Regions from separate parts of the Homo sapiens genome. Here region 1 is linked to region 2. The links come from fine-mapping of genetic effects on gene expression. A gene starts in region 2. The other region holds a variant in brackets. All regions are shown on one strand. Distances are from middle to middle.

Region 1 (4,406 bases), 22 kb before region 2:
TGGAGTCTCAGTCTTATGCCCAGGCTGGAGTGCAGTGGCGTGATCTCAGCTCACTGTAACCTCTGCCTCCCGGGTTCAAGTGATTCTCCTGCCTCAGCCTCCCGAGTAGCTGGGATTACAGGTGCACACCACCACACCCAGCTAATTTTTGTATTTTTAGTAGAGACACTGTTTCGATTTCACCATGTTGTCCAGGATGGTCTCAATTTCCTGACCTCATGATTCACCCCCCTCGGCCTCCCAAAGTGCTGGGATTACAAGCGTCAGTAAGTTTAAATGATCAGCATACAGGATATTATGTGTGTAATGCTTAAACAGAAATGTGAGCTGAGCTACTGCAGCTGGTGATGTGTCATGTCACCCATATTTTTGCCCCATGGTGGGAATCTGTAGTCAGTTTAAAAACAATCCCTGAGTTAGCTGTTTCTCTTGGTTCATAAATAAAGAGGAACTAGAAGCTTATGTCCCAAGTGCATACATCCATTATAGTTTGTTGCAGACTTTCAGTCCTAATTGTATAATTATATATACATATATATAATTATATATGTGTATATATATATATGTATATATATATATAAATAAAATAGTTCTCATACCACAGTGTGGGATTAAAAACTTTCAACTAATCTTTCTATTATCATCTTAAAATCATGAGTTATACAATCTTGTTGTTACTGTTTTATATATTCTAAATAGGGGAAGCTACCTTTTTTATTATATTCAAAATTGTGCATGGGCAAAATCAGACACATAACATTTCTTACCAAATGACACCTTAAGAAAGTGCATTTCTTTTTTCGTTACTGTATTTTCGTTTGTTTTTACAAGTTTTATAGTAGAGCCAGGGTCTCACTATGTTGCCAAGCTGGCCTCTAACTCCTGGTCTGAAGCAATCTTCCCACCTCATCCCAGCAAAGTGCTGGGTTTGCAGATGGGAGCCACTGTGCCCAGCCAAGAAAGTGCATTTCTTTCTAGATAGACTTACATATTACCTGGGAGTGGTCTCTGTGTTTTTTCTATTTGTACATTAACTAAGAATTGACCATCAGATTATCTACTTTAGTGGTTTTTCTTCTATGGCATTACTTCAAGCTCTAGGGATTCATTTGATCCTCTGTGAACACGTAAGGAGTGAGCAAAGGTCTGATGACTGCAGTCTTCCCAACCCGCATTTTTCATTCAGTGAACTTTTGCGACTCTCAGTATTGCCCCAAAAGTTCCATATTCAAGAACTTTGCATGTTGAGTTTCTGTTTGTGGCTTTATTGGAAAATGGGTTCTACATTTAAAAAGAGGATGTTCGAGACTTTGAAAATCACTGGATTTAGCCATCCAGCATTCACAAATGCATGAAAATTAGCCATTCTGACAGGCTGATGTTTCTGGAATCAAAGCTGGATAAGCCTCAGGCATTCATTGTCAAAAAGTAATAAAATTTGCCCAAAGGTTTTAGAAAGTCTTCTCTGGGCGGTGACAGTTAAAGTGAGGTTTAAAAACAAATAGCAGTTTGTCAGATGGTGTTGGGAGGAAGACATTGCTGCAATGAGGGCATCATATAAAAGGACCTGAACATTGTGAATAATGTTGCAATGACCACAGATGCACAAATATTGCTTCCAGATCCTGATATCAGTTCTTTTGGATATATGCCTAAAAGTGAGATTGCTGGATCATATGATAATCAGAATTTTTTAAAAAATTTTTTAGGGGCCTCCACATTTCTTCCCATGGTAGCTGCACCGTTTTACATCCCCACAACAGTGCGAAAGGATACTGTGT[G/A]ATTTCACTTATATGAGGTATCTGAAACAGTCAAAGTGGAAAATAGAATGGTAGTTGCCAGGGGATGGGAGGTAGGGGGAAATGGAGATAAAATTTCATTTTTAGTAGATGAATATGTTCTAGAGATCTACTGTACAACATAATGCCTAAAATTAATAATACAGTATTGTGCACTTAAAAATTTGTTGATAATATTTCATATTAAATGTTCTTACCATGAAAAACTAAAATAAATGAACACAAGGAAACTTTTGGAGGTGATGGATATATTTAATATCTTGACTGTGCCAGTGATATCATGGGTGTATGCATATTTCCAAAATCATGAAATCGTATATGTTAAACACTTTGTATGACAGATGCATCCGACAGCATTAACTCAAGCATACCCTGAGAATGACTGTATGGTCTAAGAAGAATATGTGTTCAGAGTCTAAGCTAAGGAATCCGGGAATGGCCAACCCAGAGAGATTCACTTCTTATCTGTGAAGGACACTTGAACTCCCTGCCTGTCCGTTGGAACTCAGGATGTGCAAGGAACCAAGGCCTTTTATTTTGGGTTAAATGGAGGTTGCTAAGTGGAGAGTGCTAAGTAGAAATGTTATATAAACTACATACTCTTTACAAATAGTAGCGGTCCTGTCCAGCCCACTGCCACTGGACCACATCTGTATTTAAGTCCTAAATAAACCCTATGTCCCATTCACTGGCTCTGGGTCTCTTCTTGGACAAGGCGCCATCCCTGTTGGAATCAATAGGGCTCCAGCATGACACATGTGCAGGATTTTTTAAATTATATCAATTATATCTCAATAAAGCTGTTGAAATTTTTAAAGGGCCTGACCTGTCCTGGAATGGGGAAAAACTTAATGTGACAAAAATGTAGGTTATAGTGAAGGGAACAGGAAATGGTACTGGGACCATTTTTACTCCAGCTAAAAAATTTGAATTTAAGAAATTTGGATATAGATAGGAAGGAGCTAATGTTAAGCAGGAAGTAAGTTGATAAGAGTTTTCTGTTAAATGTGATGGCAAAGCGGTAGGTGAGTATGGGCTCCAGTGGGACAGAACTTGTGGCAGAGAAACCAGGTCAAAAGTTAAAGTTGGATTTGGTGAGTAATTAAAGAGAGTAGTAGCATTTCCAAGACAGAAATTAATGAGCTTTGCTTACATGAAAAGATTAAGAGGATAAGCTTAAGAACAATAAGTACCATAAAAATGGGTGGCAATGATGATACATTAGGGGTGGAGGACCTAGGGTCATAAGGTTGCCCGTGGCGACTTGGAGTGAAGTGTTGAGATGATATGCCCATTTCATGGGGAGAAGTAGAAAGAACAGAAAAACCACTTTTACTTTAGTTCTGGTGTAACTATGAAGAAAAAAAAGCCTAATTGAGGACAAGAATAGACCTCGTTTCTATGGGCAACAGGCATATTCTGCTCCCTATTTCATTATTTCGCTTAAAAAACACTTGGTGAAGACTTGATGCAGATTGTCCTCTTGGAATCTCTGATCCTGATGTTTATTTAAGTGGCAGAGTGGTGGCTTTTCCATGGTATATAGTCAGATTCTTTTTTTTTTTTTTTTGAGGTGGAGTCTCACGCTGTTGCCCAGGCTGGAGTGCAGTGTTGAGATCTTGGCTCAATGCAATCTCCACCTCACAGGTAGCTGGGACTACAGGCACCTGCCACCACGCCTGGCTAATTTTTGTATTTTTAGTAGAGATGGGGTTTCACCATATTGGTCAGGCTGGTCTTGAACTCCTGACCTTGTGACCGCCCGCCTCAGCCTCCCAAAGTGTTGGGATTATAGTCGTGAGCCACCGTGCCCGTCCTAGAGTCAGATTTTAAATCTTCAAATATTCAAGACCGGTTTATTAGCTATTTGAGGTTGTGAACGCTTCTCCTTCCTTACAAGTGCAAAGCCTAACTCATTGAATGTGTGGATTACAAAACAAGAAAACATTAACTTATTGCAACAGAGTCTGGTTTAATTAATAAATCTTTTTGGAAGTTTTCTTTGACAGATCCTACATAAATAAATATAGTTTTAAAAGTGGACTTTTAAACATCAGTTTTTCCTTTCCGTCATGGTTTTCCTACGACAAGGATAAAAGACCCCTCTTCCTTATTTGAAAATTCTCGCAATCAACTAGAACTGAAATTATGAACACCAACTCTGTCAAAACTATACTTTTGTTACTTCTTGGTGAGCAAGAGAAATGAAGAAAACAAAAGAAAATCATGTGCTATTTTAATGTAATTTATCCTATACTTTTTTCAAAAAGTCACACTCACGTCTGCTTGAGAGTTTTAGAGGAATATAATGTATGAAAGAAAATTCCAATAACATAATGTACAAAAATGTTGTCACATACAGAAGAGCAAAAATCTACGTATTGGGGACTATTGCTGTGGGAAGAAGGGCCTGATCTTCATACTCATCTTCCTCATTGAGTACCATGACCCCTTCCAATTCATCCATACTACACCATCATCTGTGCCATGCTTTGCCATGTCCCAGGTGTACTGTCCACCCCAGTAGTATCTGCCGTTTGGATTGGCTGCATGACATCTATTATACCACCATCCACCACCGTCTTCTTTAGAACACTGTTTTCTGGG
Region 2 (4,406 bases):
TAGTACAATCTAATTATTCCCAAAGTCTTTCCAGGCATTAACAGGAAGAACAGCCCCTTCACTGTTCCTTATAGTCCCAGAAGCTTGTTTCAACTATGCTACAAGAAAGTATCTGCTAACACTACCTTAGTATTTAGGCAAATTCATAGCATTGTGCTAAACAATTAAAGACCAAAGTTTTGGAAGAAATGTCCAAGTATCATTTTTCACAGGTTTTGACCTCAGAAATTCAAATAAACAGTGATAACTCCCATGATTACTTCCTTTTGAATTAACGAACAATTTCAAATATGAAATTTAAGGGATGGACATACTGAGCCACACAACTCTAAAGAACATTGCATATAGTGTTTTTTAAAGCTTGTATATTTAACCCTCTAAGTTGAAACAGAAAAATAAATAGTAATATTTATTATTTTATAAGAATCAGAAAACACTTCCTATAAAAATATCATAAAAAGCTGATGAAAATGGCACTCAAATCTATACTCATATGACCTATCACTGTTCAAGAGCAAAGGACAATATTTGAAGGAGAATAAAAAGAGTTTCTGTATTGGTGAGTTTAAAAAATCTTGCCTAAAGAAGGAGGGCTTTCCTTAAAACTTGTATTCTTGGTTTTACACAGACATAATACTAATAATTTATATTAATAAGTTACTTGCCGTGTCTGCTTTAAGGACAGCCCTGAGGGCCCGTACAAAGAGCAGTGGTGACACCTGCTGTTCAAATAAGGCAGCTTCGGGTGTCAGCCAGGCCATGTGTGTATGACGGAGCCTTTCAGGAATCCAATTAAACTTGTGGATCCTTTCTCCAGAAAATAAAACATATTCCCATATAAATACAAAATTTTCCTACAATATACATAATTCATGAATCCCTGAACTAAATAATAGGGTCACTTGAGTTCTATATTTATCTAAAATATTGTAAACTTTCAAGGGGATGACATCATTCTATAAATTCACGACAGTGTTTTAAAAGGAGCAAATTCGAGGCAATTTACCTCAATCATTACCATGTTGTTATTGAGAAATTAAATTAATGTCTCCAGGATGATTAAATATGTAAAAAGTTAATAGATCCAACTAGACAATTAATATATTGCCATATATATTAGTCTTGCTTAGGTTTCTATGGTTTTATTGTCATTTCAAATCATGTTATTTTCTATAGTTATTATTAATAGGTGAGTATATTATTTAGTTCATCAAGTATATATTTTACAATTATGGTATTTTCTTGCAAGGAAATACCATCACCTGCCACCTTTACAGAAAAGCAATTCTTAGGCCAAACTCACAGTTAAATTCAGAGATGCTGTATCTTCAAGTAAAAACATGACCTTAAGGCAGGGCTCAGTGGCTCATGCCTGTAATCCTAGCACTTTGGGAGGCCGAGGCGGGCGGATCACCTGAGGTCAGGAGTTCAAGACCAGCCTGGCCAACATGGTGAAACGCTGTCTCTACTAAAAATACAAAAATTAGCCGGGCATGGTGGCGGGCGCCTGTAATCCCAGCTACTCCAGAGGCTGAGGCAGGAGAATAGCTTGAACCTGGGATGCTGAGGTTGCAGTGAGCCAAGATCGCGCCATGGCACTCCAGCCTGGGCGACAAGAGCGAAACTCTGTCTCAAACAAAAACCCATGACCTTAATGTTTTTAATGAATTTCCAAGTAAGGTTGATTTATATTGCTATTCTTTTGCTAGATTTTTTCCCCCTCTCAAAGTGTAAGCAGTATGCTCTCAGGACAGGATTAGTGAAACTGAAACAGGGCCAGTAAAATGTTTGTCTATTTAAGTTTGTAAATGCCTAAGTCCATCCATTTTTTTTTTTACATAGAAAAATAATTGGGTAGGGTTGATCACAAACCACAGATTTTACCAGGGTAGAAAGCAAAAATACCAATACTTGGCACAAGGATATGTATAAATAAAAATGGCTAAAGTCTCCAATTGTGTCTTCTACCAGCTTTGAAAAGCTGTACCCTGGCATTGTTGAAGCCACAATAATCAGCAGGCAACTAGGAAATGGACAAGAGCTATGCAGTTTTGAGAAATTAAAAAAAAAAATCTATTAGCAGAAAATAAATATGGGGTTTTGTTATAACTACATGTCAAAATTTTCCAAATTAAAACAGCTATTCCTCAACGTTCACTTAACAAGTGTTTACTGGACTGTTTAAGCGAAATTGTTTTCAGGTGTTAAGCCTACAAGTGTCCAAGTGCTTCTCGCCAGGATTAGAACCAGGAGACACAAAGCACGCAGGCGACCTCCAAAGAGATCAAGGTAGTGGAAATGCCTTAGATAGAGCCCACGGGAGTTTGCTCTCCAGACGCTTAGGTTCTCTGAATAAAAAGCGTTAAGCTTCCGGGGAATACAGCACGAACAACCAGGACCCCAACTAAGGCAGAAAACATAATTCTAAGATTTCTTCAGAGGGACGAGTGAAACCCTCCACCCAGGCCCTTCCAGGAGTCTCCGGCTTTCAGCCTCGAGACTCCGCCCTAGAGGCGGTCCCGAGGAGGGAGACCCGCCTCCTGATCCTAGATGGCCGAGGGAGACTAGCGCGCGTGCGCAGAGCTTGCATCACATCCGCCGCCTGGGCGCCCAATTCCGGAAGGTGCTGCACAGCTGTGGCGGCGGGTACTGCGTTAGTGATTAGAGTTTCTTCCCTGCCGGAGGTGGGATACACGGTAGCATCATGGTCGAGGTAAAGTGACACTGGGGCTCTCAAGAGTCGTTTGTCTCTGGACTGTTTTTTTTGGCAGTGCGCGTGGGGGATTGAGAGTACTTGGAGTCCAGAGAGAAAAGAGGCTACGAGGGGAGCTATTTGGCCAAGGCCGAGTGGTCTCTTCTTCGGGTTTTCGGGGAAGGGGTAGAAGCCGGATGAGAACCCGAGTCGGAGGTTCAGCCTGGGCGCGAAGCCTGAGATAATTCGTCCAGTCCTCGTTTGACTCTTGGGAGCTGGAAAGTGTCCTCGGAGGCGGGGCCTCTGTTGGTGATCGACCACTGGTACTTGCCGCCCTCGGGGCAGTGTCAGTGAGTCTGTGCCCTAAAAGATTGGTAGTCTTCTCTATCTTGCGTTCAGGTCGTCTCTTATTTCACCTCTACCCCCAGAAAAACTTGCCGTTCTTTACATCTTTCCCTGGCATGAACAGCCAACGCTGTTAGCTGGTCTTGTCCATCTTACCCCACATGTTTATTGATTCCATTCACTCTTCTCCATATCCGCTGCAGTCCACCTTAATTGAGACCAACATCATCTTTCACCTGGACTGGTGCATTAGCTCCCCGTTGGTTGGTTTCCTTGCTTCCATTTTGTTCTATAAGTTGTTCTGTTTAAAACGTAAGTTGTTCATACCTTTCTTGTTTAAAACCCTTTACTGACCCTATGTTGCTAGAACAAAATATAGGCTGTTGTAATAGTCTAAAAGACCTTACCTAATCTGGACCTTGTCTACCCTTGCAGCTACAAAGCACCATCTCATCCTCCATACACAGCTGTACTGCGCTCCTTGTATTATTTCAGTTAACTGAACTTTTTTTTACATGACATTTCCATCAGCCTGGTTCGTTCTTACCTCTGTTTTGTGCAAGGCTAACTCCCTTTCTGCTTAAATATCACCTTAGTGAAATCTTTCACAATTATACTTAGTCCTTCATTCCCTGACTCAGCGCCTTGCTTGTTGCCTTCATAGCACTTATCAAAATGTGGAATTATTTTACTTTTTATTTGTCTGTTTCCTCTTGAGCACAGGGACCATGACCACCTTTTTATCATTCTATTGTGAGATTCTAGCACAATACCTGCCAGACACACAGTAGGAGCTCAGTAAATATTTATTGAGTAAGTTAAACTCCGGCATCACTCAGTTGCTAAACCTGAGGTTCTAGCCAAAGAGGAGCTTCCTCCTCTTCTCTGAACTTGACTCCTGTAGCTTGCAACAAGTAGCTATGGTGAGTGGTATAAAGCTTTTTACATATTTAAACACGTGAAGTGTATAATCAATCTGACTTTAGGTTATGATTTGTGTAATTTGTAGATAGGTGTGTAATTACATTCTTTTTTTTTAGGAGGTACAGAAACATTCTGTACACACCCTTGTGTTCAGGTCGTTGAAGAGGACCCATGACATGTTTGTAGCTGATAATGGAAAACCTGTGCCTTTAGATGAAGAGAGGTTGGTGTAGTTTTTTTTTTTCAATTGCTAAAATACTTAACATTCTAATACTAGGGGAAGAGAGCAGGGAGAGGGAGTCCTTTAAAGATAAGCTAGTCATGGGCTAATTATTCAATAATGAGTGGTGTTTTGGCATAATTTAAGCTGATTTAACTTTTTTTTTTGGCCTTTTACAGTAAAAGTTCCATTAATTAATTGCATTTTACAAATACCCAGTAATTA

Alleles and levels. Alleles are on the strand shown, and positions count from the first base shown. SD is a standard deviation of normalised expression in the study named.
For the expression in skeletal muscle of the gene that starts at base 2,613 in region 2, allele A in region 1 goes with a higher level than allele G (moderate effect, 0.51 SD a copy in GTEx).

Evidence for each region. PIP is the estimated chance that this variant, and not a neighbour inherited with it, causes the effect.
Region 1: its variant is the best candidate, but not a certain one, in a credible set for the expression of PLRG1 in skeletal muscle (GTEx, PIP 0.69).

The regions. Positions count from the first base shown.
Region 1 is chr4:154,570,432-154,574,837 of GRCh38, reverse strand. It overlaps FGB (fibrinogen beta chain), which reads right to left. Exons shown (of 8, transcript NM_005141.5): 8 at 2,031-4,406. The coding sequence ends at 4,188. Among named protein-coding and RNA genes, the nearest start is that of FGB, 9.6 kb to the right of the region's middle. The variant G/A (reference allele first, on the strand shown) is at 1,782.
Region 2 is chr4:154,548,607-154,553,012 of GRCh38, reverse strand. It overlaps PLRG1 (pleiotropic regulator 1), which reads left to right and starts at 2,613. Exons shown (of 15, transcript NM_002669.4): 1 at 2,613-2,713; 2 at 4,078-4,184. The coding sequence starts at 2,705. RefSeq lists enhancers at 602-896, 2,280-2,439, 2,460-2,509.